Linked DNA regions of Homo sapiens: all the other regions are linked to region 1. The links come from fine-mapping of genetic effects on gene expression. A gene starts in region 1. Each other region holds a variant in brackets. All regions are shown on one strand. Distances are from middle to middle.

Region 1 (7,552 bases):
AATCGTTGTTCTCTCTTCTCTTGCTCTTGACTTTTGCCCTTTTCACTGTGCTTGCTTTCTTATTAGTCCTTTCCCCTTCTAACATGCTCCTGCTCATCTGCTGTGGTTTTGAAAATCAGGAAAGTGGCTTCTCCTTTAGGCTATTGGTTCAGCTGCTGCAACAGAGACCAGACAATAGTGACTTTACAAGGTTATTGCTCTCCCGTGAGAAAAATGCAAGGTGGTCAACATTGTAGGGCACTTCTCCAGGTCATCTTGTGACTCAAGTTCTTCCTGCCTTGATGCTTGACTGTCTCTAGGGAGTTGTCCTGGTCAGCATCATCAAAGCTGCCCTCCCCTCCACCCCATGTCCACATCCCAGTCTTCACAAAGAGGAAAGAGGAAGTAGAGAACAGCCAGCTTCCTTTTAAGTATGTGGCCCAGAAATTAAACCTATTACTTCCACTCATATCTCACTGGCTAGGACTTAGTTCATACTTCCACCTGGCTTCGAGGGGTTCTGGGATATGTGGTCTATAGTAGGAGAGCCATAAATCCAGGTTTTAATCTTGGGAGCTCTACTGCAAAAAGGAAGAGGGAAAGAAAAGGGGCTCTTAGCAGTCTCTGCCACACTGGATCTATTGAAATTTTGTGTGGAGTAAATAAAGGTGGGCACCAATTGAAGACACAAGGTGATCTGCAGAAAAAGCCCCTCCCCTCCCCTCCTCTTCCCTCACCTCCCCTCCCCTCCTCTTCCCTCCCCTCCTCTTCCCTCCCCTCCTCTTCCCTCCCCTCCTCTTCCTTCCCCTCCCCTCCTCTTCCCTCCCCTGCCCTCCCCTCCCCTCCTCTCCTCTCCTTTCTGATGTAGATCTCTCTATATTGCCCAGGCTGGTCTCAACCTCCTGGCCTCGAGAAATCCTCCTGCCTCAGCCTCCCAAGTAGCTGGGATTACAGGTGTGAGCCACCACACTTGGCTTCCATCCCCCTTTTCTGTACCTCTCTCTCTGTCTATTTTTTTTTTCTTTTGAGACGGAGTCTCGCTCTGTCGCCCAGGCTGGAGTGCAGTGGTGCCATCTCAGCTCACTGTAAGGGTTACTCAGAGTCCTTTTGTTTCTTTTATATTGTTCTGGATTATGTTCCCAGACCAGACATTGGAGGTTAACAACGCGGTCATGAAGACAATAACAGGCATAATCTTTCAGATTTGACAACTCAGGCCAAAGGCACTCCCACCCCAATCCACAAGTGAGAGCATGATAAGTGTTTTCAGTGTCACAGACCAGAAGGGCCTTTCTTTTGAAAGCCTCAGTTATTCATACCCATACACCTTTACTGAGAACCTTCTACAAGCTGACACTCATCTAGGTGGTTGGTTGGGACATTGGGGTCATCTCTTTCCCCACCACACAGCCCACCTGGCATCTCCATGGGTTCTCCTCCTTCCATGGGTTCTCCTCCCTTCCTTCCCTTCCCTCCCTCCCTCCCTCCCTTCCTTCCCTTCCCCTTCCTTCCTTCTTTCCTTCCTTCCTTCCTTCCTTTCTTTCTTTTTCTTTCTTTCTTTCTTTCTTTCTTTCTTTCTTTCTTTCTTTCTTTCTTTCTTTCTTTCTTTCTTTTTCTTTCTTTCTCCTCTCCTCTCTTCCCCTCCCCTCCCCTCCCCTTCCCTCTCCTGCCCTCCCCTCCCCTCCTCTCCTCTCCGATGTAGGTCTCTCTATATTGCCCAGGCTTGTCTCAACCTCCTGGCCTCAAGAAGTCCTCCTGCCTCAGCCTCCCAGGTAGCTGGGATTACAGGTGTGAGCTACCACACCTGGCTTCCGTCCCCCTTTACTGTATCTTTCTTTTTTTTTCAAGACGGAGTCTCACTCTGTCGCCCAGCTGGAGTGCAGTGGTATGATCTCAGCTCACTGCAACCTCCGTCTCCTGGGTTCAAGTGATTCTCCTGCCTCAGCCTCCCAAGTAGCTGGGATTGCAGGTGCCCGCCACCACCCCCGACTAATTTTTGTATTTTTGGTTGAGACTGGGTTTCATCACATTGGCCAGGCTGGTCTCGAACTCCCAACCTCAAGTCATCTGCCCGCCTCAGCCTCCCAAACTGTTAGGATTATAGGCGTGAGCCACCACACCTGGCCTCTCTTTACGGCATGACCTTGATGCTTATCAGGTTTCTCCTCTAGGAGGTGGAGTGGGTTGGATATGGGCTTACAACAGCTTCTGTGATGATGAAGCAGAGAAGGAAAAGACGAACTGCTTTTGTTGAGAATTTATGCTGTCCCACCAGACTGTGAATAGCATAACTACAGCAACAACAATGAATATTTGCAGAGCATTTATTTTGTACATGGTATTTCATTTAATCCTCACAATCACCCTTTAAGCTTATGATTATTGTTTTCCCCCATTTTCCATATGCCAAAAAAAAAAAAAAGCACAGAGAGGTTAAGTCCCACATTTAGGTGGCCCAGCTGGGACTGAAATGCAGGCAGCTAGCGTTCCCAGCACTATTCTTGTATTGATCTGATTTGTCTTTGTACCCGCCAGCCTTTATCCTAGAAGAGAATAAAGGTGTCAGAGCAGAGGGGTGTGAGACCTCAACTAGCCCAGCCCTCTCAGAATTACAGATGAGAGGGAAAAACAAAGAGAGATCAAGTGAGCTACCCAAGGTTGCACAGCATGATAGCCGCTAAGCAAGGGCTGGAACCTAGACCCTGATGCCCTGTTGCCACTGCAGAATACGTGTTCAAAAGTCTTCCCGTCCCGTGAATGAAAAAGATAATGAGTGGGCCGGCGCGGTGGCTCACGCCTGTAATCCCAGCACTTTGGGAGGCTGAGGCGGGCGAATCACGAGGTCAGGAGATCGAGACAATTCTGGCTAACGCGGTGAAACCCCGTCTCTACTAAAAAATACAAAAAAAAAAAATTATCCGGGCGTGGTGGCGGGAGCTTGTAGTCCCAGCTACTCGGGAGGCTGAGGCAGGAGAATGGCGTGAACCTGGGAGGCGGAGCTTGCAGTGAGCCGAGATCACACCACTGCACTCCAGCCTGGGCGAGTGAGTGGATAATGGATAGACTTCGACAGAGTCTGTCTATGTGGCTCACCCTTGGGTCTTCGTGGGGTGGTTGGGTCATGAGAACCAGGGGGTCAGGGGAAGAGGGAGATGACTAGAGTGCGCCAGCCTGATACGGTTGTGTGGAAGGGGGTGCTGTGCTGCTGGTTATGGGGAAATCAACCCATGAAAGCATAACCAGCCTTTGACCCCCTCCTCTGGCACCTCATGACCTTGTGTTCACAGGGCTTCCTCTATGGCATTCTTATCATATTGTTAACAGCCCTAACTGGTGAAAGGGAGTCACTTTCAGAGAGCATTGGGCAGTGGCTTCTTTCCCATCAGCTATTGTACTGCAAGTGCCAGATAATGTCGATGACATAAATGTGCCTAGGCCCCTGCCTGGGAGGGAGAGGCTGTTTACTACTGCCCCTTGTTTTGCACACTGGTCTTTGGGGGTTGCAAACACTGGCACCTGTCCTCGGGGTCAAAACCAGTGTCTATAGCAGAGTGGGCAGGACTTTGATGAAACTCTGATACCTGCAGGATTGTGGCCCACCGCAAACCGGAAATGACCCAGCTCACTCCCTTGGCCCTCCCTGGTGGGGCTGTGGCCAATTGTAGATCACTCCTTTGCTGTAGAAGGAGTCTGGGTAGCAGCTGGGTACCAGCCACTAGGCTGGTGCCAGGACCTGGTCCTTGGGCGGGGCAGAGGGCTATCTTTGTGGGAGTGGAGTGGCTTTTCTTGCTTCTGGCTGATGGGACTAAGGAGACTGGGAAAGGCGACATGCCTCAGGGAGGGCGAGGGGAGGTGGCAAAGGAGCTGCCAAGGCCCAATGCATCAGGGCAGCTGGAGCAAGCTGGAACCAGGGACCGGCAGCCTTGTGTGTTTGAGATAGTAATTTGCAGATGGTTCCTGGTAGCGACAGGGTCTCTGAGGCGGAGCCTGGGTCTTCGCGTAGGATCTGCCAGCCTGGGTTCCCCGGCAGGTCAGAGAAGCTTTGGGGCGGGGCCAAGGTTGGCCCCTGCTTGGGAGGAGCCGGGATGCCTCTCTCACAGTGATGCAGAGAGGAATTTGCTGACAGTCCCTTGCCAGGTGGGGCTGGCTTCGCCCAGCCGGCGAGGAGGAGGACCCGCTGGCAGTCTCCTCCCAGGTGGGGAGCGTGGAGCCTGTCACTGCAGCCTGGCGGCCTGAGCGCCGAGCCTGGGGCTGGGGCCGCGGTGCTGAGGACGCAAATGTGGTGAGCACGCGATGCGGGTGCGGTGACCGGGGCTGGTCGGGCCGGGAAGAAGGGGCGCCGGATCCAGGTCCCGCACGGGGAGGGGGCGGGGAAGGATTGCTTGTTTCTGTGCTTTCTGAGACCTTGCATTGGGAGGGATGGGGGTAGGGGAGACTGCGCCACAGTCCCTTGCCACGCTGGCTGTCTCTAGCTTGTACCCAGGAAAGGGTGGCCTGAGCCGCCCACCCGGGAGGGCGTGGCTTTAGTAGACCGGTCTTCACTGGGTTGGGGGAACGGAGGTGGGTAGGAGGTTTGCTTGGGGGGTCCCCGGCCTCCTGCCTGACAGCCAGGTGGGAGTTACCGCTCGGGGCTACCCTCTCCCCCACCCAGGGATTCCCCGGGGCTCTGCCGCCCACTCTCTGGGCTGGGACGGGAGGGGGCAGTCTGCTCCGCCGTTATGGGTTATGACAACGTCACTGCTGCGCTGCTGCCTGGCGGGCTGGGCTCCTGGGCCCCCAGGGGAACAATGCCACCCTTTCCCCATGTGCTTCCAAAGAAAGGCTCTTGCCTCCCTACTCGCCCTGGCCTTGAGAGAGGAACGTTGTGTTTGGATGAAGGCCCTGGGGAAACTGAGGCCCAGGGGTGCTGTGGCTTGACCAAGGTCACTGAGCAGGCCCTACAGAGCTGGCCTCCCAGGCACTGCCTTCACCGAATGCCCTCTGGAGGGGCAGGGGCCCTTCTTCCTCTCTAGACCCCAGGACCTCCCCCCACCCCAGCACCCCATTTCCTCATCCCTGAGAATGCAGGGAGTTGCAACTTCCGCATGGGGCTCCAGGGTATCATGGGTGTAAGCAGCAATTAGATTGTCTGGGGACAGGAGAAAATTGCTCATGAAAAACACCTAAGTGAGCAGAGGGGGTGTGAGCGTGTGCTGTTCTTGTGGGTTCAAGGAAAGAATGAGAGTTGGCTTTGAGGAGAGGAAGGCCCGTGCTGATGGGAATGAGGAGATGAACTTTCTCCTTCAACAGCCTGCAGCGCTCCAGGAAGATGTGTTTTCCCTCAAGAAAGGGTCCATCTCTTAGCACCACCCTCTGTTATCACCTTATCCTTGTTCTCTCTCCGGCCCCTGTCCCTGGGAGAAATGGGCTACATTCCGTCTATTGCCCTTAGAAGTGAACTTTCCCCTTAGAAGTGAATTCACCTTGTTCTTCTCCCTGGGACAGATGACCTTCCCTGGAGGGAAACTGAGGCAAGGAGAGAGCGACATTTTAGAGCCAGAGCCAGATGAGGAAACTGAGGCACAGAGGGTGGAGTGAGTTCTCCAGGTATCTTACCTACATGCAGGTCTTCTGACTCCCCAGCCACCAAAGGGCAGACTGGAGGGGCCTCTTCCTGTCTTCTCTTCGCACCCCACAGTCCCAGCGCTGAGAAGCTGAGGCTGCAAGGGCCTCCTGATGGGTGTGGAGGAGGTCGGTGACAGGGAACAGCACCAGCATTTTCTCCTCCTTTAAGATATGTTTTCTAGTTTCTTGGGAAGGAAGCAGCTTGAAGACGGGAAGTGAAGTCTCTTGGTTACCTTCCCATCATGCCCCCACAGGGATACACAATTTCTGTGGGCCTATCGGAGCCAAAAACAGGCATCCCTCCTGCCCGAGTGCCAGCAGCTGTGAGCATAGCCAGGGAGTGGGGATCCACAGGTAGAGGGACTTCATTTATCTCCCTGACAGCATCTCCGGATCGGGGGTTTGGGCCAGCACCGGTTTACTCCAAGTGAAAGGAGTTGCCATGTGCCTGGCTCATGAATTGCTCCTTTTCAGACACCCTCTGAGCACAGAACCCCTGACGCTGGCCCCTGCTGGCTTCACAGGAGCCTTGGGTTGCATGATGACCACCAGGAGCTGCTGGGGTGACCTGTGGGAAGGGATGGGGTTCCCAGTAAACCAGATGAGAACTAGCTGCTTGTGGGGTGACAATATAGCACCAGAGAGGAGAGGGCCCACCATACTGGAGGGAAACCACATGGTATGTGTCCCTCCCAGCTAGCAGAGAAAGGGTCAGGCCTCAGAGAGGCCCCGTGGTGAGAACCAGACTTAAAGAGCAGAGAGCTGGACCGAGTGCCTCTATCGGCAGGCACTCTGCCCTCAGCATCTCTACCTGATAGCTAGGCATGAAAACACCTTCTCCAGATGGGTGGGAGGGCTTTGGAAACTTGTCAAGTGTTTATTACAAATGGGAAGTATTATTCCTGGAGTCTCTGGTCTAGGTGGAAGCCATCTGTTTCCTGCCTTGATGGGGGAAACATGGTCATTTCTTCTTCAGAGGATGCTCTCTCCCTCTGCGGCCAGCCTAGGGCATCCTTCTAGGCTGGGAAGGCAGGTCAGCCCTCCCCAGCCCGCTTCAAGTTGTGCTTGGGCCCTTGAGGAGTTTCATCCCCTCCATCCCCAGCTGCCCATTATAGTTAACATATTTAACAGGATGTTCACCCCCGAAAATGCAGGTGTCTAGTGGCACCGTGGAGCTTCCTACAGGCCTGTACCCTCCCCACTGCCTCAACTCTCGAATTCCACGACCTCTGCTCTGATTCTTCCTGGGAAGAGGCGGGTGGAAGAACCATAAAGATAATGGGTGTAAAGTGCTGGGAGCTGTTTGCACAGAGCGTCCAGTTTGCAGGAACCCACGTGGTGCTCAGGCCATGGGCAGGCTCACACTGGGAAAGGCTGTAATGAAAGTGCTCAGAGGAAGTGCTCAGCTTCCAGTGAGATCAGCAGCTTTTAGTGCCCTGTTTTGCCTGAGGTGGGGCCCCAATGCTCACTCTTCTTTCCTCTCGTGGGAGAGCAGTGGTTTTCACAGCTTACACATCAGCATGGGTGGTGTAAATGGAACTCCACATTCTTGCCCATGAGTTGGCTGGTGCAACTCCTGCAAGGTAGGGTTACAGGAGGAGCTGAGATGAGAACGTGGGCAGCTCACGAAGTATGGTGTGTCCTTGCTCTAGATCTGTCTGCATTGCTTAGGCCCAACTGAGGGTGGCTCTTAAGAAGAACAACGTGTGGCCAGGACTCCATGTTCTGTGTTTCTAGGGCAGGATATGTACTCAAGCTGCCACATTCCTTGCCAACACCCCTGGGGCTGGTGCTGAGACATGCAGAGGCAGAGTGGGCGGGGAAGGGGCGCCTCATTGTCACCTCCTGCCTCCTTGTAGTCATTAGTAATGCTCCCCAAAGGGAAACCGAAGCATAGACCTGCTTAGAAAGCTAGGACTAGGACCCAAGTGTCCTGGGCTCCCACCTTCTGCTTTTCCCAGCCTTTCAC
Region 2 (7,552 bases), 58 kb after region 1:
AGACTGTGATGGCTGGGGGTATGGGGAGACTGTGATGGGTGGGGGTATGGGGAGACTGTGATGGGTGGGCGGTATGGGAAGACTGGTGGGTGGGGGGTATGAGGAGACTGTGGTGGGTGGGGGGTATGGGGAGACTGTGGTGGGTGGGGGGGTATGGGGAGACTGTGATGGGTGGGAGGGAGCAGGGAGCCCTAGGAGACTGTGATGGGTGGGGGAGGTGTCCAGGGGGACTGCGGTGGGTGGTGGCCTGGGGAGATGGTGATGGGTGGGGGGGTCTGGGGAGACTGTGATGGGTGGGGAGTCTAGGGAGACTGTGATGGGTGGGGGTCTGGGGAGACTGTGGTGGGTGGGGGGTATGGGGAGACTGCGATGGGTGGGGGCATGGGGAGACTGTGATGGTAGGGGGAGTCTAGGGAGACTGTGATGGGTGGGGGTCTGGGGAGACTGTGGTGGGTGGGGGGTATGGGGAGTCTGTAATGGATGGGGGTATGGGGAGACTGTGATGGGTGGGGGTATGGGGAGACTGTGGTGGGTGGGGGGTATGGGGAGACTGGTGGGTGGGGGGTATAGGGAGACTGTGATGGGTGGGGGTATGGGGAGACTGTGATGGGTGGGGGTATGGGCAGACTGTGGTGGGTGGGGGGTATGGGCAGACTGGTGGGGGGGTATGGGGAGACTGTGATGGTAGGGGGAGTCTAGGGAGACTGTGATGGGTGGGGGTGGGGGATACTGTAATGGGTTGGGGTCTGGGGAGACTTGGATGGTTGTGGGGGTCTGAGGAGACTGTGATGGGCTGGGGGGCCCCAGGAGACTGAGGGTAGGAGGAGGCCCAGGGGTCTCTGTGCAGTGGGCTCTGGGGAGCTCACAGGCTGACCTCACTGCTGCTGCCTCCCTCCCTGCAGGAGCAAGCTCCTGTGGCTGCATAGCCTGCTGTCCTTCTTCTACTTCATCACCAACTTCATGTTCATGGCTCATCACTGCCTGGGGTTTGCACCCAGGAATAGCCAAAAGGTAAGTAGCCTACAAAGCTGCTTCCCACTGTGGGAAGCTGGGGTCCCTCCCCACTGGGCTGACCACTTCCAACCCTCAGAGAAGCCCTCAGAGGGTCCAGGGAGACTGTGATAGATGGGAGGGGGCGGTTTCACCTGAGCAGGGGCCAAGCTTCCTCCCTTCAGTCCTAGTAACAATCACCTGGCCCCCACCTCTCACCCTTCTCCACCCTCTCACCCTCCTCCACGCTGCTCCACCCTCTCACGCTCCTCCACCCTCTCACCCTCCTCCACGCTGCTCCACCCTCTCACGCTCCTCCACCCTCTCACCCTCTCACCCTCCATCCTCTCACCCCTAATGAAACTTTCAGACTGGTTGGTAAATAGCTGCTGCCCAGGTACCTCCTATCCCTGCCCCTCTGCTGCCCCGCCCCTCCCCAGGGACTCTTGGACTTCCCACCATCTGAAAACTAAAGGATTAACAAGGCCCAGTGGACCAGCGGGGGCCTCCATGCTAAGTGGTCTGGGCCCTGCTGAGCTGCTGCTACTTAGTGTACCTGGCCCTGCCCACCCCTGCTAGGCCCGTGCCTCGCCCTTCTGCAGTCTCTCGGAGATCAGAGACCCCCGTGTATCCCCACCGTCTCAGTTTGGGTGACCCCATCCAAGCAGACCCTGAGACTTGGAATGAGTAGCGCTTGTTTATGGGAGGTGATCCCAGGAAAGGCCAGTAAGGGAGTGAGGATGCAAAGGCAACCAAAAAAAGGGAGCATGGAGGGGCAACTTACCCCTGTGGGCAAGTGGAGCTTCATGACCAGGGAACTCTGGGAGCTGGTGTAGAGCACATGCCCCAGAATTTTCCTGGAGGTGAGCAATCGTGGGTATTTTCCACCAGCTCCCTGTCCACCGTTCATTGAGGGTTGCGCTTGGGGGCTTTAACTCCTCCCCTACTTGGCCCTGCACAAAAGCTGAACATGCCCCAAGGCCGGGAAAGAGCAGTCGCAGTATTTGAAGCATGCTGCAGGTGTTGGTGTGCAGAGATGACTGACGGGGGGCCACGGGCAGGCACCAGCAGTGCCACCCATCTGGACCAGCACCCATGCTCTGCTGGGGATGGGCAAGAGTGAGGAGCATCCTTAGTTCCCGTCCTCAGCCTTTCAAAGGTTCAGTGGTGTGGAATCAGCTCCTTCCAGGCCGTCCATTCAAAAGGACTGATTCACTTGAACCCACCCCAGAGTGCAAATCCACATTCCCTGAAAAGTGAACCCAAATGCTTCAGCCTGCCAGGCATGGAGGCTTGGTCACCCTTGACCAGTCTGGTGTCTGCTACTTCAGCTTTCCTTCTTGTCACCAGAAGCCTCTTTCAAGACCCCTGATTCTTGCAGCACAATTACCAGACTGTCATCTTAAAGGTGACGACCCAGGAAGATATTTCCCATTCACAGAATAAAGTGTGAAGTTTAGGGAAGCTTCCCTACCCTCTCCCCAGAGTCTTGTTTACTTCCCAACTCCCCGGCCCAGTCTCACGTGAGGGATTTCCCTAGAGATGTGAGGCTTTACGCTGGAACAGTGGAAGCTACAGGGAGAGCAGAAATCACTGTGGGGTCGCTCTGGCAGCTCTTTCCAATCATGGAGCTCTGATCCTCCACCCCAGCCTGATGGCAGCTTTCCAGTCCTTCCTCCCTTCACCACAGCAGTCCGGAGCAGGGCACCCACAGCTGGGCACAGAGGAGAACGGAAGCACAGTTGACCAACCTCAGAGCTGCCTGGCTCAGCTGGGACGCTGTGGGCTAAGGCAGCTGGCACTTCCTTGGCCCACAGTGTCCCAGCTTGGCTCTGGCTTTCTTGGCTCTCTCAGCAAGGAGGCACTGGCATCAGCAGCCTGCTGTGAGCAGAAGGCCTGCTCTGAGCCACCAAAAGACTGAGGTGTCTGGAATTCCTATGCAAGCACAGTCTTCTTTCTCCATTTTTATTTTTCCCACCCAGGTCACAAGGACACTAATGATCACCTATGTGCCCAAGGACATTGAAGACCCAGAACTCATCATTAAGCATTTTCAGTAAGTGGGTTGGGGTAGGCCAAGGCGTGGATTGCTTCCTCCCCATAACCCCGCCTGGGTCCTCAAGTGGGTAGTGAGTTGGTGCAGGATGGTGGGACTGGGACACCCCGGGGTGGCTCTCCCTGGACTCAGCTCAGGATCAGCTTTTTAGAATGGGGAGGGCCGCTGGAGCTGGAGCAGGGTGTCTGAAGTCAGGGACTTCCTGCATGGCATGGCTGTGATATGGGTGATGGGAATTTTTCTTTCTCCTGTTGCTTCAACTACTGAGCACAGGGAACCTTGGATCACAGCTATTTAGAGAAGATCATCTGGAGACATCCTTTGTGACCCCAAGTTCCCAGCCCCAAGGACACTGTTCACTGAGCTAATTATCTCTTCGTGAACAGCTGTCTCCTGGGTTCCCCAGTGGGTGGAGCTCCGCCCTTTTGCCCTGTTCTGAGTTGTGTAGGAAGGATTTGGCAGCTCTCAGATTGCCAAGGTTCAAACCCTGAGGTTCAGCTTTAGGAGCAGAGATGGAGTATCCCATCCAGGAACACCAGGCAGCTGAGCCACCCAGCCCTCAGGGCCGACATGCTGGGCAGGGGGTAGGGGCAGCACATCCCCAACCCCACAGGCCGACTCAGCACCCATGTTTGTGGCTGCAGCGAGGCCTATCCAGGCAGTGTCGTGACAAGAGTCCACTTCTGCTACGACGTCAGGAACCTGATCGACTTGGACGATCAGAGGTGAGGCTGCAGCGGGGCCTTTTGGGGCCCGGGGTGGGGGTAAAAGGGGAGGATGGGGCTCTGCTGGCCCCTGACCTGCAGGTCCTTCTCCTGTTGCCCACCGCTGGCAGGCGCCATGCCATGCGGGGCCGGCTTTTCTATACAGCCAAGGCCAAGAAGACTGGGAAGGTGATGATCAGGATCCACCCCTGTGCCCGCCTGTGCTTCTGCAAGTGCTGGACCTGCTTCAAGGAGGTAACTGGCTTGAGCGTTGGGAGCACAGCAAGGGAGCGGTGGGGTCCTGGGGCTCTAGGCTCTGTGCCTTTGCCCGCACTGTTGGGCCCCAGGCCTCACTCAGGTCTGCTCTAGTGCTCCCCACCCAGCTCCTTCCTCCCCATCCACCATGTCCTGCCTCCCTGTTGAGATGGGAGCCTTTCTGGAGGCCACCTTCAGAACAATCCAGGGAAGCTTGCTGCTGTCTCCTTTCTGGTCTTGGATGGGAGAATGAGAGAGAAGGACCAGAGAAAACACAGCAGGCTACACGAGGCTGCCAGGCCTCAGGCTCCCAAAGAGA[T/C]AGGACAGAAACATTTGAAGGCAACAGCTTGTCTTATCACCTGACCACTGTGGCTCAAAGAGGGCGTCGAGACTCAGACACCTGCTTCAGGACCATGCCGAACTTCTGCCAGCCCAGAGATTCACCCTCTCTCGTGGAAATGCGGCAAACACATTCTCTCACCTCTCTGGGGTCCACCCCAAGCCTGAAAGCCCCCGGGTACCCCTAGCTATGCCTCACTTTCCCCAGATCTAAGGGCAGGGGTGAATGGCAGTCATCGCCTCTTCTTGTTCTAGAGGTGGGACTTTGGAGGCCAGCCAGGGTCCTGGGCTCCTTGAGGTGCTTCAAGGCCACCACAATCCAGGGAGGCTTGAGTGGGGAGGAACCTCGTGACCAGGGAGGCCTTCCTGGGGCTCTGGCCCCAGCCCTGAAGGCTGCCTGCCACCCCAGGTGGATGCAGAGCAGTATTACAGCGAGCTAGAGGAGCAGCTAACGGACGAGTTCAACGCCGAGCTCAACCGCGTGCCGCTCAAGCGGCTGGACCTGATCTTTGTCACCTTCCAGGACTCCAGGATGGCCAAGCGGTGAGCACCAGGCAGGCGCCCCACCCAGCCCCAAGCATACTCCTGCTTCTCGGCACTCTCCTCCCTCTCCACCTCCAGTTTCCCCTTCTGCCTCCCCTGGGCCCTCCATGCTCGTCACAGGCAGCTGCCATCTGGCTCTCCAGTGGATGAGATGGCCATACCTGCTTCCCCCAGCTGCTGGGGCCCAGCTGCTCTCAAGGGGTGCCCAGGCCGGGGCTCCTCACTCCCTGTCCTTGCTTTAGCACAGAGGTGGTCAGAGAAGCCTTTGACCTCATGGTCCCTCTTCTGCCCTTGACAAGAATGACATCCCTTTTCCCTTTTTCTTTTTTTTTTTTTTTCTTTTTTTTTTTTTTTCTTTTTTTGAGAGAGTCTCGCTCTGTCACCCAGGCTGGAGTGCAATGGCACAATCTCAGCTCACTACGACCTCTGCCTCCCAGGTTCAAGCGATTCTCCTGCCTCAGCCTCCCAAGTAGCTGGGATTACAGGTGCCTGCCACCATGCCCGGCTAATGTTTGTATTTTTAGTAGAGACGGGGTTTCACCATGTTGGCCAGGCTGGTCTCGAACTCCTGACCTCAGGTGATCTGCCCACCTCAGTCTCCCAAAGTGCTGGGATTACAGGTGTGAGCCACTGCGCCCAGCTGACACACACATCACTCCCTCCTCACCATAAGAGAGCGTCAGGATAGAGCAGCTCTGTTTGCCCTTCTCCTGCCGCAGGCCTCCCCTAATTCATAGCTCTACAGTCCCCTCTCTTCTCTGCCCCAGCCTCTGGCAGCCCATGCGTTGACAAGGAGTGAATTCAGTCCACTCTGGAATGTTCCAGAAGGATCCTTAGGACTGGGCCAAAGTCCTAAAGGAGCTCCAGAATTTATCTCTTAAGAACTGTGGGGGGCAGGGGGGCTCTTCTTTCTGGGGGAGGCTGATCCTGTACAGCACATTGTTCCCACCTACCCCAACCCTACAAAGGAAGAGCAGAACTACCTAGATTTTGCTCACAAACAATGGTACACAATTTTGCAAGTTCCTTACACTCTCAACTTTTTATCTGGCAAATTTGGTTACTGATATCTGTCCTGTTCACCTCCCGGAGGGTTGACAAGTGATATGCCTTCTATTCAGTTTCTGTGTTGTTTAAAGCAATACACCTACCTAAGGTTATATTGTTCATTCTTTGAGACATTGCCATTTGGTAGAGAGGATCCGGGGCTTAATTACAGCAGAATATGAGCTAGCAAGCCAGAGGTGGGGCTCCAGCACCTGCTCCTCTTTGGTCACATCTCTAGGCACCTCGATTTAGTCATCTGTGCAATGGAAATGATACTGGTCATCAATTAGCACAGTGTCAAGCACACAGAAAGAACTCAATAATTAGTAGCTATTGATATTAAGATGAGGCTAAAAGTAGTACCTCCCTTATCAAATCTCAAAGAAAGAGTGTGTTTATGTGCTGTCACTGCTGTTAAGGGGAAAGGCAGAAACAGAACCACGTGGCACCTCTGCCCTGCCTGGGCAGTCTAGGCACCCTCAAATGCCCTTTCCTCCAGATACTGGGCCTTAGGAACTGTCCACCTCTAAGGTCCTGAAGACATATCCAAGGCTTCAAGAATCCCCAGGAAGGGGATGAGCCCCCATCTGTAGGACCACCATAGTGGCCCTGAGCTCCTGGCATGAGACCCTCCTAAGCCCATCCCCCCACCCCCAGACCCACATTTCTTCCTCTTCTCCCCTCTCTGCAGTGTCCGTAAGGATTACAAGTATGTCCAGTGTGGTGTGCAACCCCAGCAGTCCTCAGTGACCACCATCGTCAAATCATATTACTGGAGGGTCACTATGGCCCCACACCCCAAAGACATTATTTGGTAAGCCTCCTCCATCCCTCCCCTCTCCTCTGAGCTCCTCTGAGACTGAAGAAGGCAGCAGGACAGGGCCTTCTCTCCCCATGTCATTGCCCAACAGAGACTCCAAGGGGACTAAGTTCCATGCTCTCCTAAGCACCACAACCTGTGTGTATGCCCAGACTCATTCCCACAAGTGTGGGTGGCATCCAACCCTTAGCAAAAAGGCTTTTCCTGCAGAGGGAACTCAGGTCCATTTTTTTTTGGCTCTATGCTCTGGATCCTTTATAAATGGTGTGACAGGGGACGGTCCAGGGTCCTGTTGCATGCAAGTCTGGGCCCAGGAGGCTGGATTAGACCAGGGCAGGCTGGGTCCACAGCTGGCCTGCAGCAAACAGCACGTGGGCTCTAAGAACTGATGTCTCTAAATGTGCCTCCTTCTTCCATCCTTCCCCAGGAAACACCTGTCTGTCCGCCGCTTCTTTTGGTGGGCCCGCTTTATCGCAATCAACACCTTCCTCTTCTTCCTCTTCTTCTTTCTCACCACGCCTGCCATCATCATGAACACTATCGACATGTACAACGTCACCCGCCCCATCGAGAAGCTGCAGGTGCCTCCTCTGCTCAGGCCAGGCCTGGGGACCCCAGGGAGATCAAGGAATAATTCAGGCGAGGATGGGATGGGGGGAGCCCCCTGGGAGGGGGCTGTGGAGCCCATACAGTGCGAACATTGTGGAGGTGGCCATGGTGCAAATGGCGGGGTAGGGCTTGCTTTGTTCTAAAGGGATGAAGGTGGGTGACTGCCAGTCTTAGGGACCAGGGCTAGAG
Region 3 (7,552 bases), 83 kb before region 1:
TAAATTTTTTTTTTTTTTTTTTTTGAGACGGAGTCTCGCTCTGTCACCCAGGCTGGAGTGCAGTGGCACAATTTCAGCTCACTGCAGCCTCCGCCTCCTGGATTCAAGCAATTCTCCTGCCTCAGCCCCCTGAGTGGCTGGGATTAAAGGCGCATGCCACCATGCCCAGCTAATTTTTGTATTTTCAGTAGAGACGGGGTTTCACCACGTTGGCCAGGCTGGTCTTGAACTCCTGACCTAGTGATCTGCCCGCCTTGGCCTCCCAAAGTGCTGGGATTACAGGTGTGAGCCACTGCGCCTGGCCCACTTTTAAATATTTTTAAATGACTTTAATTTTAAATTCAACAATTATTAAACAATCGTTTATAAATATTTTAAATTGTATAACATAATACACTTAAAATATCTTCAAATAAAACTCGGCCCATGGCTGACTCTTCATGGTATCCTAGGCAGGGTTAAAAACTCAAATCCTCACACGGATAGGCAGGTTACAATTTCAAGAAGTAGATGGGAAAAAAAAAGAAACATTCGCAAGTCCCTAAATGTAGGATTTAAGGGCGCATGTCTCCCCCTGCTGGTTGTGGTGGTAGGAAACCGAACCTAGACCACAATGGTACTGGGGAGAACTTGAATTGGAAAGGACCCTACAGCAAGAAGAATAGGTGCTTCAGAACCCACTATCCATCACAGGGTCCTTACCCCATCCATCATAGGGTCCTTACTCCAACCAAGAGTAAAGAGAGTAAAGTGAGTGAAGGTTAAAGAATTCGTGGCACCAGTAAACTATCAATAGATGCTGATTTACAAATCTTGGTAAATTAATAGGAAAGGAAGAAAAACGTTTACGGTGGTTTAGCTACATAAAAATATTCACTATCAATCTTCATGAATTGCTTATTCTGTATATCTAATTATATAGAATCATAGCATAAAATAATCATAAAAATTATGCCTATCATTAGTCTTGATTCATTTGGTTCCATTACAATACTTGTCTGAAGCTTAAGTTATTGGTACAGCATGGCTGTCTGCTCAAGATGTAGGTAAAGTCAAGGAAGTTTGGTTTATTTGCCCCTTCGGAGGACTAAGAGGGCCTCATGCTTTCGCATATTTCACTGATTCTTTTTTGCTTGGTATGCATTATCCCCTCACCTGCTTCCATTATTGCAAACCCAACTTTCAAGCTGTCTTTAAAGCTTTACCTGCTGGTCTCTTTCTACTCCAACAACCGAAAAAGAAAGTTTTTTTTTTCTCCCTTAATGTTATTGTTTTGTTCAGAATCTTTTGGTAGTTATCCCATTCTCTTTCATATTGCTTATTACATCATGTCTTATTTCCCATATCAGATTGTAAGTTATTTGAAGGCAGACTTTTATTCTTTTTTTTTTTGAATTTTATTTTTGTTTTGTTTTTTATTTAAGTTCAGGGATACGTGTGCAGATTCGTTACATAGGTAAACTTGTGTCATGGCGGTTTGTTGTACAGATGATTTCGTTACCCAGGTATTAAGCCTAGTATCCATGCTGCTGTTTTTTAAATTTTTTATTTCCATAGGTTTTTGGGGAACAGGTGGCATTTTGGTTATATGAGTAAGTTCTTAAGCGGTGATTTGTGAGATTTTGGTGAACCCATCACCTGAGCAGTATACACTGCACCCAATTTGTAGTCTTTTATCCCTCACCCCCTTCCCACCCTTTCCCCTTGAGTCCCCAAAGTCCACTGTATCATCCTTATGCCTTTACATCCTCATAGCTTAACTCCCACTTATGAGTGAGAACATACGATGTTTGGGTTTCTATTCCTTAGTTACTTCACTTAGAATATAAGTCTCCAATCTCATCCAGGTTGCTGCAAATGCCATTAATTCATTCCTCTCATAGTTTATTTATTTGCCCCTTCGGAAAACTAAGATAGGACCACACCTCATGCTTTTGCTTATTTCATTGATTCTTTTTTTGCTTTGTGTGCGTCGTACTCTCACCCACTTCCATTACTGCAAATCCAACTTTTAGCTATCCTTAAAGATTTACCTACTGATCTCTTCCTACTCCAACAACCAAAAAAAAACAAAGTTTTTTTTTCTCCCTTTATTTTATTAATTAGGTTTTGTTCACAATCTTCTGGTACTTATCCCATTCTCTTTCATATTATTTATTACAGCGCGTCTTATTTCCCATATCAGATTTTAAGTTATCTGAAGGCAGATTGTTTTATTCCACTTCAAAAGAAGGCAATATATTAATAGCTTCATGGATAAAAGCCACGGTTTTCGTTTGTTTGTTTTGGTGAGACGGAGATTTGTTGCCCAGGCTGGAGTGCAATGGCACGATCTCGGCTCACCGCATCCTCCGCCTCCCAGGTTCAAGCGATTATCCTGCCTCAGCCTCCCGAGGATTACAGGCATGTGCCACCACGCCCAGCTAATTTTGTATTTTTAGTAGAGACGGGGTTTCACCGTGTTGCCCAGGCTGATCTTGAACTCCTGACCTCAGGTGATCCGCCCGCCTCGGCCTCCCAAAGTGCTGGGATTACAGGCGTCAGCCACTGTGCCTGGCCAAAGCCATGGGTTTTTAGTTGAGTCCTAATGGGCAAAAACGCCACACAACTGGAAAAAAATACCACCTGCGTCATAAACTTGTAAGGAATCATAAAAGGATGCATATAAAGCGGCCCGGCTCCTAATTACTTGGTAATTGTTAACTATTGCTTTCACTCTGTCCCCAAAACAAAAGCCTTACATGGTGTAGGCATATTACTTGTTGGTAAAGCTGACTACTAACAAGTACACCCATACCCAGTAATACATTAGAATTACCTGTGTCTAGAGGACTAACGTGATTAACCACGACCTAGCAGCACTTACAAAGGCCTGGATGACCAGTATAAAACAATTCCCCACTATCTAAATCAGCACTGTCCAATATAACTTTCTGCGATGCTGGGAATGGGCTATATATAATCTGCACTGTCCAATAAAGAGGTCACTGAGCTCCTGAAATGTGGCTAGTACAACTGAGAAACTTATCCAGTCGTTAGTGACCATCTTACTGGACAGCTCAGCTCTTGAATCTGCCTCGACCCGTCAACTCTTTAAACTCGCCCATGTCCTCTTTTTCACTAGCGAAATAATTCTTTTTCTAAGTAACCTTCACTGATTCAAGGCATCAGAACGTCAACTGATCCCAAGCCCTTTTTTTCTTTAGCTGTTACACACGTGTGTTCACCGTGAACCTTCACCAAGAAACAGCATCCATATAAAACCCATAGCACATGACAAAGTCAGTCAAACATCAAAGGTCATGAAATCATCTACTTAAAATAACTCATCGCGCCTCGACCTCGTGAAGCACGGTCTCGAGGGTGGACGGGAACAAAAAACAAACAGGGCGACAGGCGTAGAGAAAATGCGAGGAGCACGCGGGGAGGTCTGGCACCCCTGTCACGGCGACTCCAGGCTGAGGCCGCCCGCACGCCCGCTCTCCCACGCCGGGCACTGTCGCTCCCGGCACGCGCACAGGCCGGACAC[G/T]ACTCGCCCCGGCCCCCACCCCCAACGGCGGCACGGCGGCACGGCGGCACGCACCAAGACAGTGCGAGAGTCGCTCCTCTCTCTGTATCGACTCCAAGCCGGCCCCACCCCCGGCTCCTCTGAACCCCGCCTGGAAACCTTGCCCAAGCCGCTCATTGCTCAAGGCCCCCGTACAAAATGGCGGCGAGGCCTGAGGAACCAACCATAGAGACGCCCGCCGGCCGCGGACAGAGCGTAGGCCTCTGAGCGCTGGCCCCGCCCCGCGCCGGCCTGGTCTTCCGGCGGGGGCGGGGAAAGGGCGCATTTCCAAGGGCCCTTCTAGGAGAACAGCGTGCGGTCTCCATGGTGCCGGGTCATCCGAGTCGGGTCACGTGGCTGGCGAAAGCCGTCGCGGAGGCGTGGGGAGGAGAAATGGGCGGGAGGCTGTGGGGATAGCGAGACACCCAGCGACGACGAGGTTGTCATGGTGCCGCGGGGCCGTGCTCGCGCATGCGCCACCTGACCCACAGGCCGGTCGTGGAGCTGCGACCCCGGCCCTAGGTGAGAAAGGGAGGGCTCGGTCCGGGAGGAGGGGAGCAGGGATGACGGCGGGAGAGGGATTGGGCGAGGAGCGTGGGGAAAGGAGGTGGAAGTAGGGGAGAGAGGAAGAGGAGCGAGTAGGCAAGAGGGGCAAACCGGGACTTTCGGAGGACGGAGAGCCAAATGGTGGGAGCAGGGCTTTGGTTTGCTGTGAGGGGCGTGGGAGAGGGAATCGCGGGTGAGGAGGGGGCTGCGTGTGGGGAGGAGGCTTGTGTGAGGGGCAGGTGGGCCCTGGTCTAGCCCTGGGCGCAACCGCCAGCCGGCTGGGCGGGGAGAGAGCTTGGAGTCCAGCCCGGCTGGGAGCTGAGGGCCAAGCAATGGGCAGGTGAGTGGGCGCCAGAACTAGTAACTGGGCGAGGGTCCTGGGCTTCCGGTTTGAGGTCGGGGGTGGTACCCTGTTCTGGCTCCAGGGCACAGGTGTGCTGCCTTTTCCAGAGACCTGCCGTCACCCTCGTTGCTGGTTGTTTCCCCTGAGTGGCCAGCTTGCCAGGCTTGGTGTCGGGGGTAGTGTTTCTGGGGAGAAGGTGGGCAGTGCCAAGTAAGGAGTTAAGTGGTTAGTGGGTGGGTTCGGGGGAGCTCTGATCCCGGCCCAGGTCACAGGCTGGAGCTAGGCTCCCTGTTATTGCTCAAGTCCTGGCAGTATGCATTGCCTGGGCGTTTGCCCTGGAAGGCTGGTGGTATGCCAGTCACAGCACAGTACTAGGGTCTGCCCAGTTTTGCCCTGCTGAGCTGGCAGGCTGGTGGATGCCTGGAGGGTGCACATGCTGCCTGGCACAGATGCAACGTGGGCTGGTGCGAATGGGTAGGTGGGCACTGTTACTGTGAACTAATTGCAGCAGGGGATCGGAGAAAGTTCTCTAAGCTCATCTCCCCTTTGAAAGGTGAAAATAGAGCCAAACTGGTCTAAAACATAGGAAATTGTATGGAATTGGGGTTCAGGATCTTTGACACGAATTTTCAGCCAAGTTGGAGAAATGGAATGAATGTGGAAGGGAAGATGAATATTAGACATTTAGGTAGACAGGGTTTTTCCACTGTTAAGATACCCAGACATTCTCCCAGAATGGTATCCCTGAATATGCAGGCCAAAAGAAAATGACTTCGGAGAAAAGCTAGTAATGTATTTATAATTCTAACGGGGATTACTCAAGGTTTTCTTTCTGTGACCTTATCACTTTATTGTATTTAAGCCTCTGGTTGGGCTTTTACCTCACACTTCTGTCCAGGCACACATGTTATACACGTGACACATTTTAAAGGGAACTTGAGCTTCCAGGAATGTTGCCAAGTGTCTATAAAAGGAGAGATCTGAAAGCAGCATTTCAGATCCTTTTCTTGTAACCCTGGATCTCCTTTTTAATCATAAGGACAAATCTTCACAAAGATTGTTTGTGGATTAGATCAACCCTTAATTTGGATGGTGGATTTGTCCCTGACGTTTCAACTTAGAATAAGGGGTAGATCAAATATCTGTTTCCTGCAGGGGACCAGACGTGGAGGTTAGATCTTAAGGTGACCGTGGTGTTTGGAAATGCAGAATCTTGACCTTCAAGCTGTTCAGGTATTTCTGTGACTGCTAAGCTACTAGAGCTGTCAGAGACTCAGCAGGTCAGAGATTTGTTGGAATTTATTACTCTATTGAATGCCTCATGTTAATTGTTGGGGGCTGAGGTTGCAAAGATGAAAAAAACAACTCGAGGTTGAGGAGACAAATAATTAGACTAATGTCAGAAGTGCAAAAAGAGTAGTAAGAGCTAAATGCTTTGGAGCACTTGCTAGGATTTTGAATTTTGTCCCCTTATATAAACTTATATATTTATTGATTCACTTTCTTTCTTTCTTTTTTTTTTTTTTTTTTTGAGACGGAGTCTCACTCTGTCACCCAGGCTGGAGTGCAGAGGCACAATTTCGGCTTACTACAATCTCTGCCTCCCAGGTTCAAGCTATTCTCGTGCCTCAGCCTCTTGAGAAGCTGGGATTACAGGCACACATCCCCAAGCCCAGCTAATTTTTGTGTTTTTAGTAGAGACAGGGTTTCACCATATTGGCCAGGCTGGTCTCCAACTCCTGACCTCAGGTGATCTGCCCGCCTGTGCCTCAAAGTGCTGCTGGGATTATAGACGTGAGCCACCTTGCCTGGCTCTGATTCTCTCTTTTCTTTTCTTTTCTCTTCTTTTTTTTTTTTCTTTTGACGGAGTCTCACTCTTCACCCAGGCTGGAGGGCAGTGGCAACATCTCGGCTCACTGCAACTCCACATCCCAGGTTCAAGGGATTCTCCTGCCTCACCCTCCCAAGTAGCTAGGATTACAGATGTGTGCCACCACACCCAGCTAATTTTTGTATTTTTAGTAGAGACAGGGTTTCACCATGTTGGCCAGGCTGGTCTCGAACTCCTGACCTCAGGTGATCCATCCACCTCTGCCTCCCAAAGTGCTGGGATTATAGGTGTGAGCCACCACACCCGGCCTGATTCACTTTCCATTATGAGTTTTAGTGTGTACTATCCTCTCTGGGAAACTTTTGGACAATGTGTTACATATACATGCATAAGAGGCCCAATTAGGGTAAATTCTGACAGTTTTGGAGCCTAAATTAGCCCTTTTAATGCAGAATAAGGTACATGTGTTTGTAAAGCAGCGTGAGTGATTTCCAGTCTATGCCAGGAAGCAGGAAGCAGAAAGAACACAGTGGGTAAGAGCTTAGTAATCCATTTTCAACTCCTAGTCAGTGTGAGCATGTAACTTTATTGTAAACTAATATCTAAGAGGAAAAAAATCAAGCAACTTCCCGAGGTTTTCAGACTTTGCCTTGCAAATTTTGGGGTTGAGAGCACCAGTAGTAAGTGAGGCTTTATGTGGTGCTATGTGTGAGTGGGTCCCTCAGCCACTCCCAGGAGGGCAGTGCTGCTACTCCTCCGAAAGAGTAAAGTTTGGGGAGGGATGTAGCCCTTTGTTCTACATCCCATGTGAGCCTCCCTGGCTGCAATGCTAAGGCTTTTTGCTGCTTAAGAGAACTTTACTGAAGATAGAGGCTTTCATATTTTTAATCATTTTCATATGAAAAATAGTCAATTTGCCATCCTAAAGTCGATTTTACATTCTTTATTTCCAACTGCCACCAACTCCCCAGGATCTAAATTTAGCATCTGTTCTCTTTTTAACTTACCTCTGTGATACCTTTCCTCACCTACCATAAGGGTCATAGTTGACCCTCCCATAACAAAAGACAGGTTAACAAGAGAAAAACATAACAGTTTTATTTAATCAAAGTTTTTTTTATGACACAGGAGTCTTCAGAAGTGAAGCCTCCCAAACTCAGGGAAAACTGTCTATTTTTATGGTTAGGTTTGATGAAGAATGGACGGCTGTGTAGAAATATGATTGGACAAAAAGGGTATGATCTGGCTGGGCATGGTGGCTTATGCCTGTAATCCCAGCACTTTG
Region 4 (7,552 bases), 47 kb after region 1:
AGATGACTCTCTCTCTAGTCCCCCACCAATCTCCCCATGGCTAAGGCCACCTTTCCCCACCACCCAGAAACTCCAGACAGCAAGACCCCAAGAGAAAGGCCTCAACCGGACAGGACCCTCAGCACATGGCATCAAAGATGCCACCAAACCACGCCAGGTTTCATGATGTTTACTGAGGTGCAGGAATTCAGAGGGAAAGAGACCTTCCTCCTTGCAACACCCATATCAATCCCCTTAAGGGATTTTTTTTTTTAATTTTAATAAGTGGGGTCTTGCTGTGTTGCCCAGGCTGGACTCAAACTCCTGGGCTCAAGTGATCCATCTGCCTCAGCCTCTTGAGCTGCTGAGATGACAAGTGTGAGCCACCATGCCTGGCTTCCTTAAGGAAATTTTAATTGGCCCCACTTGGGTAAAGTTCCCATTGGCCAGTCAATCACTGGAGGCAAACTCCCACTCGGACAGAGTAAGAGTAGGAGCCCACTGGACCACACGCATCCAGTGAAGGACATTTCCAGAAGGAAGCATGAAGGACAGACAGAGAGCAACAGACGTTCACCCCAGAAGCAGTCACTTCTCCCCCTCCAGTTCAAGGGTCACCTTCTAAACCCCATTTCCTATAACAGGAGGGCAGAGATGTCCACTCATTTCCAGGGAAGCATCTCCCTCCACAGTCACCACTGGTTCCCAGCTGAGCCTTCAGACTCTTTTTCCCAGGAAGGAGGCCCCGGACGCTGCCGCGGCTGCCTCAGATGACCTGGCCGCCTGGGTTCCCAGAGCTGGGCAGGGCAGGCCAGGACCTGGGTTTTCTCACAGTTTCTCTCCTTTCCCCGCAGGGATTCTGTTCCTGGTTCTTCAACAGCATAACAATGAAGTAAGTGCCCGGGCTCTGTGAGCTTGTGACCGTGTTGCCTTGGGGGTGGGGGGTGGAGGCTCCTGGAAAAGTTAGCAGCCCCCAGCCTGGGAAGACAGGGCCTGAGCTCCGTATCCTCCCCGCCACCTCGGCCCATTACCAGTGAAGGATGCTTTCCTGGGGTACAGTTGGTGACGTGAGAACTGGGCACAGCCCACTGCCCCTGTTATCTCTGCCTCAGTCCTTAGGGAAGGACCACTTTTAATAGCTGAATCATTACTCGCGTGCTTATAGAAATGCTTCTGTGAACTCCACACCAGGAAAAAGAAACCCTTCCTTTGTGCTATCTGCTTGATTTCTGTGAACATCATTCAACATATCATGTGTTCGCCCTTCTGCCCAAGCAAACATCGGGCAGAAGGGCAGGCCTCGCTCGGCCTCAGTGCCTGGAGAGCAGAGGGGCAGCCCTTGCCCACCTCACCTTGTGGGTTTCTTGAATGCCAGACCCCACTTTGCAAGCAAGCAGCCCCCAAGTCACCTGTTTTCTCCTGCAAGCTGACCTCAAGTTACGTGTTTTCTCCTGATTCCCCAACACCAGCCAGACGCTTCAGCAGAGCAGACACTTACCGGAACTCTATGTTCCCACTGCGTAGGCATACACACATGCACACTCATACATACACGCACACACACGTACACGTGTGCACACAGCTCTGCCTCCACCTCAGACCCCACACACTCATGGGCTCTCCCTCAGTGTGCTCCACCTGTCCTGTCCTGCCCATCCTTTAAACCCCTCCACCCCACCCCTACCCAAAGACTCCTATCACAGAGGCCCCTCTGTCAGGGACCCAGCATCTGGGAAAGCAGGAAGGCAGGGCATTGCACCGTGCATCCAGCAGCTCTTGAGAGCAGTGTCATAGAAGACAGCTTAATGCGTTTACTGAGCAGCAATAAGTCAAGTAGCGTCCCCGTGCACAAACCCATGCGGTCTGGTTGGAGAAACAAAGGTGAACAAGACTCCCTTCGTAGCATTCAGAATGGGAGGGTTATAATTGCTGTGCAGACGGCATGTGGGGAAGAGAGAAATTAATTCCAACTGGAAAAGTATAGTTTTGAGCTGGGCATTGGAGGACAGGAAGAGTTTCGACAGGCGCGATGTGGGATGTGGAGGGCACATCAGAAGTAAAGGACCGTGTGAGCCAGTTTGTTGCAGAGATGAGTAGGGTGTGCACAGACATGGTAAATCTGGTGTGACTAGAAGCAAGGTTTCATGGTAAGTGTGGCGGGGGAGGGTAAAAGATTGGGCTGGAAGGATCAGTTGGGATTTTTTTTTTTTTTTTTTTGAGACAGAATATCTCTCTGTCACCAGGGTGATGTGCAGTGGCACAATCTCAGCTCACTGCAACCTCCGCCTCCTGGGTTCAAGCAATTCTCCTGCCTCAGCCTCCCGAGTAGCTGGGATTAGAGGCACGTGCCACCATGTCCAGCTAATTTTTGTATTTTTAGTAGAGACGGGGTTTCACCATGTTGGCCAGGCTGGCCTCAAACTCCTGACCTGAGGTGATCCACCTGCCTCAGTCTCTTAAAGTGCTGGGATTACAGGCATGAGCCACCGCACTGGGCCTCAGCTGGGACCTTGGCTGGCATACTGAGAATCTTGGGCTTTCATCTAGAGACAGTAGAGAGCCAATTAGTATTTTTAAGCTGGAAACTCAGAACAATATATGTGTGTAGGCAGAAGTATGGAGAGTGAATGGCATTAGAGAAAGTCCAAAGTCAAGGTGAGCAGTTAAGGAGGCTATTCCAATGGTCGAGGTGGGAGGTGCTAGTGACCTGAACCGGGGCAGTGACTAGAGAAACAATGGGAGGGGAAGATGGGAGGGAGATCATAAGGCTACAGTCAGTAGGTTGTGGCCTAGTTAAGAAAGAGGGAGAAATTGAGGTCTGGTTTCTGGGGAGGGTAGTAATGCCATTAGGTGGGAGAGGAAACACAAAATGATGAGATGTAGTCAGGGCAAGTATGCAAGCTGACAAAGGAGCTGTTGAAAAAACAAGATTGAAGCCTAGGAGAAAGGTCAGAGTTAGAGATTTCAACTTGGGAGATGGTGCATGGAGGCTGTAGTTGAAGTCATGGGAGCAGATGGGTCATCCAAGGATGTAAGACCAGAAGCGGCCCAAGGGAGTGCCTCATCGAGGCGGGAGGAAGAGGCATCCTCTGGGCTGGACTCAGTGAAGCCAGGCCAGGACAAGGCTCCCCTCTAGGGTGGGGCGACCCAGAAACCTCTAGTGCTACAGAGGTGGAGTAGAATGGGGGTTGAGGAAAGGACATTGACTTTGGTGAGTTGGGTCTCTGTTGGGAGGGCAGGCCGAGGATAGGATGTCCAAGACACAGAGGCAGAGAAGGAAGGTCACCTTTTTCCAGAGGTGCATGGAAGGAGGGAAGTGAAGCTACTGGAAGGAGGAGGGAAAACAGGTCAGGGAACAGATCAGAGAGTGGATCCTTGAGGAGCTGTTTTATTACAGAGGAACCAACAAGCACTTGAGCCTGGTTGTAGTTTACAGGGAAGAGGTGTGGGTGGACGCAGGTGCATGCAGAGAGAGGAGGATGCCGAAGATGAGAGAGCAGAACAATGGATCCAGCACGTCTTCAGAAAGAGGTGGAAGGAAGGGAAGCAATGAGAGCAGAGACAGAGAATTAATTGTGAGTAGGAAGAAGGGCGATTGGCTGGAAGGTCAGGGTGGGGCACTTACAAGAAAGATGGAGAAAGGAAACAGGCCTAGTGGTGGAGGCAGGAATTCCTGGCCCAGGAAGAGAATTCTAGTGCTCTCAGTGCCATCCAGTCCTGTCCAGCCCTCTGCTCTCTCCACCTGATTGGAGGCTCCTGGACCTCACCCCGCCTCAGGCAGTGCAAGAGGACCTTCCCCCGCTCTCCAGAAGTTCTCATCCATTCCACTTCTGGCATTTCATTCTCAAGTCCAGGGAGGGAAACGTTTAGCCGCTCAAAGTTAAAAAATCAAGAGCTCTAAATAATTCCTCAAATGAGAACATTGAAAACCTTGAAGGTGTGCCTTTTGTAGTATTGTTTAAAAATAAATCTTTTTTTTTTTTTTAAGACGGAGTCTCACTCTGTCGCCCAGGCTGGAGGGCAGTGGTACGATCTCAGCTCACTGCAACCTCCGCCTCCCACGTTCAAACAATTTTCCTGCCTCAGCCTCCCAAGTAGCTG[G/A]GATTACAGGCACGTGCCACCATGCCTGGCTAATTTTTATATTTTTAGTAGAGACAGGGCTTCACCACGTTGGCCAGGCTGGTCTTGAACTCCTGATCTCAAGTGATCTGCCCATCTTGGCCCCCCAAAGTGCTGGGATTACAGGCATAAGCCACTGCACCCGGCCTTAAAAATAAATCTGAATCCCAGACTGGATGCTAGTTTTGCATACAACCTACAATCCTGACAAGGGGGCAGGGGTGGGTAAACCATGGTGTGTCCACCAGTGGAGTGGGGAGGCCTGCATGGTGCTGAGCATGAACCAGTGCTCCATCAACAGAGGCCACTGTCACCATTACGTAAAACCATCGGAAAATGCTTGAGATTAAATGCCAAGCAAAAGAGCAGTGCATCAAATGCTTTTTATAACTATAATCACCAAGTAAAATGAACACAACAAGAAAATAAAGGAGGTTGGGCATGGTGGCTCACACCTGTAATCCCAGCACTTTGGGAGGCCAAAGCGGGCAGATCATTTGAGATCAGGAGTTTGAGACCAACCTGGCCAACATGGTGAAACTCCGTCTCTACTAAAAATACAAAAATTTGGCTGAGTACACACCTGTAATCCCAGCTATTTGGGAGGCTGAGGCAGGAGAATCACTTGAATCTGGGAGACAGAGGTTGCAGTGAGCCAAGATCATGTCACGCACTCCAGCCGGAGCTATAGAGTGAGACTCTGTCTCAAAACAAACAAACAAACAAAAATTAAGTCCAAATGCTTATTATTATCATTATTATTATTTTGAGACAGGGTCTTGCTCTGTTCCCCAGGTCACCCAGGCTGGAGTGCAGTGGCATGATATTGGCTCACTGTAGCCTCAACCTCCCAGGCTCAAGCGATCCTCCTACCTCAGCCTCCAGAGTAGCTGGGACTACAGGCACATGCTACCACACCCAGCTAATATATATATATATATATAGTAGAGATGGGGTTTCACCATGTTGCCCAGGCTGGTCTCGAACTGCTGGGCTCAAGCAATCCACCTGTCTCTGCCTCCCAAAGTACCGGGATTACAGGCGCAATCCACCATGCCCAGCCACAAATGCTTTTTAATCATTGTCTTAGGTTCAATGAGATTGTAGATGAATTATTTACTTCTTTTTCATATTTTCCAAAGTTTCTATGAGCACTTGTTGCTTTTAAATTGTTTAAATTGAAGTATAGCATGCACATGGAAAAGTGCACACCAAAAAATGTACAGCTCGGCCCGGCATGGTGGCTCACGCCTGTAATCCAAGCACTTTGGGAGGCCGAGGCAGGCGGATCCCCTGAGCTCAAGAGATCAAGATCATCCTGGTCAACATGGTGAAACCCCGTCTCTACTAAAAAATACAAAAAATTAGCTGGGCGTGGTGGCGCACACCTATAGTCCCAGCTGCTCGGGAGGCTGAGGCAGGAGAATCACTTGAACCCGGGAGGAGGAGGTTGCAGTGAGCCAAGATCGTGCCACTGCCCTCCAGCCTGGGCAACAGAGCAAGACTCTGTCTCAAAAAAAAAAAAAATGTACAGCTCAGTCATCACAAAGCTAAGGCTGTGCCACCATCATCCTGATCCACAACTAGAACATCGCCAATACCCAGCAGCTCTCTTCCTGTCCCCCAACCTTCATCCCCATCCCATTCTAACTCTATAGCTCAGTATTGCCTATAGCTGAACTTTATGTTTGAAACCACACAGTATGTGTTGTTTGTGCCTGGTAACTTTTACTCAGCATTGTGTTTGTGAGGTTCAGCTATGGGTCATTCATTTTTATTGCTGTGTAACAGGGGTCCCCAACCTCCAGGCCACAGATCGATACCTGTTAGGAACCTGGCCCCGCAGCAGGAGGTGAGCGAGCATTACACCTGAGCTCTGCCTCCTGTCAGATCAGCGGCGGCATGAGCTTCTCATAGGAGCACAAATCCTATTGTGAACTGCACATATGAGGGATCTAGGCTGCCTGCTCCTTATGAGACTCTAACTAATGCCTGATGATCTGAGGTAGAACAGTTTCATCCCAAAATTATCTGCCCCCCCACCACCCCACACCCAGGTCCATGGAAAAAATTGTCTTCCACAAAACTGGTCCCTGGTGCCAAAAAGGTTAGGGACCACTGCTGTCTAGTATTTCATGATTTATATATCACAGTTCTTGTGTCCATTTCACCTTGATAGACATGTAAGTTGTTTCCAGTTTGAGGACGTTACAAGTAATGCATCTGTGAAATTTTTATACATGTCTCTAGGTACACATGTCATGCATTTCTGTTGGGTATAAACCTAGGAGTGAATTGCTGGGTCATAGAATGTGCATGTATTCCATTTCAGTAGATAATACCAACTGTTCTCCAGTGTAACTGGGCCAGCATATACACCCATGAGAGCAGGAGAACTCCCAGCGCCCCACACTCTCACCAGCACTTAGTGTTGTCCAACTTTCCAACTTTGGCAAATCTGGCAGTGTGGAGTGATAGCTCATTATCTCGTCATGGGTTTCAGGTGTTCCTTTTTTCCTAAGAGTGCCTCTCAGTACCACAAGTGCTTTATCTGGTGCCTGCACCATAGCAACCACTCAAAATGTTTGAAGAAGTAATAAAAGGATGAATGCATGCTCTATTTCAAGAGTGTTTCTGGATTCCTGAGTGTGTATCTGTAACAGAGCCCCTATCTTTGATATGTCTGTGAAATTCAGTTAAAGTATACTTCAAGGATAACCGAGGCTTTGAGATATAGGGCAATTTCGAAGTTGCCTTATATATGAGATATAGAGATAGTAAAAAAAAAAAAAAACTTGGGGAGGGGGTGATCATTTTCTGCCCTTCCCTCTACCTCCCCGCAACAAGTGGTGGCCACGCTGGCTCCTGAGGCACGTCCTTGTCTGTGTGTCTCTTCCAGGGACGAGGATCTGATTAACAAGTGTGGGGACGACGCGCGCATCTACATCGTGTTCCAGTACCACCTCATCATCTTTGTGCTCATCATCTGTATCCCCTCCCTGGGCATCATTTTGCCCATCAACTATACTGGATCTGTTCTGGGTAGGCAAAGCTCAGCTGGCCCTGGGGCAGCAGCTGGACCTGAGAGGCAGCCAGGCAAGCCAGTCAGGGCTGGGGTTGAGGGTCTAGACATCTATTTTAATCCTGCCTCTGGGAGTTTGTTGTTGTGTGAACTTGAACAAACCATGCTTCGCTTCTCTCATGTGGAGACTGGAGACGATTCCTCCTTTGTCACAGGTTTGGCCCAGAGCCTGACACACAGCAGGCACATAGTATTAATTCAGTTTGGAACTGAGTGTTCATTCATGGCCCCACTCTGGCTGGGCGTTCCTGGAGACCCTTTTGTGACATGTGACCCACTGCAAAGATCCCTGAACCCACTCTGTTGGACATAACACCATAGGTGCAGAATTTGTCTTGTAGGACCTCTACTCCCACTCATTGGAACAGGGTG

Which allele goes with the higher level. Positions count from the first base shown, and alleles are read on the strand shown. Sizes are in standard deviations (SD) of each study's normalised expression. Not every link is listed here.
For the expression in cerebellar hemisphere of the gene that starts at base 4,162 in region 1, allele C in region 2 goes with a higher level than allele T (large effect, 0.80 SD a copy in GTEx).
As copies of A replace G in region 4, the expression in cerebellum of the gene that starts at base 4,162 in region 1 goes up (large effect, 0.84 SD a copy in GTEx).

What was found. PIP is the estimated chance that this variant, and not a neighbour inherited with it, causes the effect.
Region 2: its variant is fine-mapped to the expression of TMEM63C in cerebellar hemisphere (GTEx, PIP 0.97).
Region 3: its variant is fine-mapped to the expression of TMEM63C in whole blood (TOPMed, PIP above 0.99).
Region 4: its variant is fine-mapped to the expression of TMEM63C in cerebellum (GTEx, PIP above 0.99).

The regions. Positions count from the first base shown.
Region 1 is chr14:77,177,637-77,185,188 of GRCh38, forward strand. TMEM63C (transmembrane protein 63C) reads left to right here and starts at 4,162. Exons shown (of 24, transcript NM_020431.4): 1 at 4,162-4,258. RefSeq lists an enhancer at 4,483-4,612.
Region 2 is chr14:77,235,722-77,243,273 of GRCh38, forward strand. It overlaps TMEM63C (transmembrane protein 63C), which reads left to right. Exons shown (of 24, transcript NM_020431.4): 9 at 903-1,011; 10 at 2,973-3,046; 11 at 3,691-3,771; 12 at 3,882-4,005; 13 at 4,754-4,887; 14 at 6,626-6,748; 15 at 7,182-7,335. Among named protein-coding and RNA genes, the nearest start is that of MIR1260A, 27 kb to the right of the region's middle. The variant T/C (reference allele first, on the strand shown) is at 4,325.
Region 3 is chr14:77,094,293-77,101,844 of GRCh38, forward strand. It overlaps CIPC (CLOCK interacting pacemaker), which reads left to right and starts at 3,966. Exons shown (of 4, transcript NM_033426.3): 1 at 3,966-4,069. It overlaps LOC124903350 (a long non-coding RNA gene), which reads right to left and starts at 3,726. Exons shown (of 2, transcript XR_007064275.1): 1 at 3,584-3,726; 2 at 2,173-2,608. RefSeq lists enhancers at 3,197-3,246, 3,608-4,437, 4,577-4,736, 6,851-6,900 and a silencer at 3,427-3,576. The variant G/T (reference allele first, on the strand shown) is at 3,530.
Region 4 is chr14:77,224,591-77,232,142 of GRCh38, forward strand. TMEM63C (transmembrane protein 63C) reads left to right here. Exons shown (of 24, transcript NM_020431.4): 6 at 834-871; 7 at 6,998-7,140. Among named protein-coding and RNA genes, the nearest start is that of MIR1260A, 38 kb to the right of the region's middle. The variant G/A (reference allele first, on the strand shown) is at 4,081.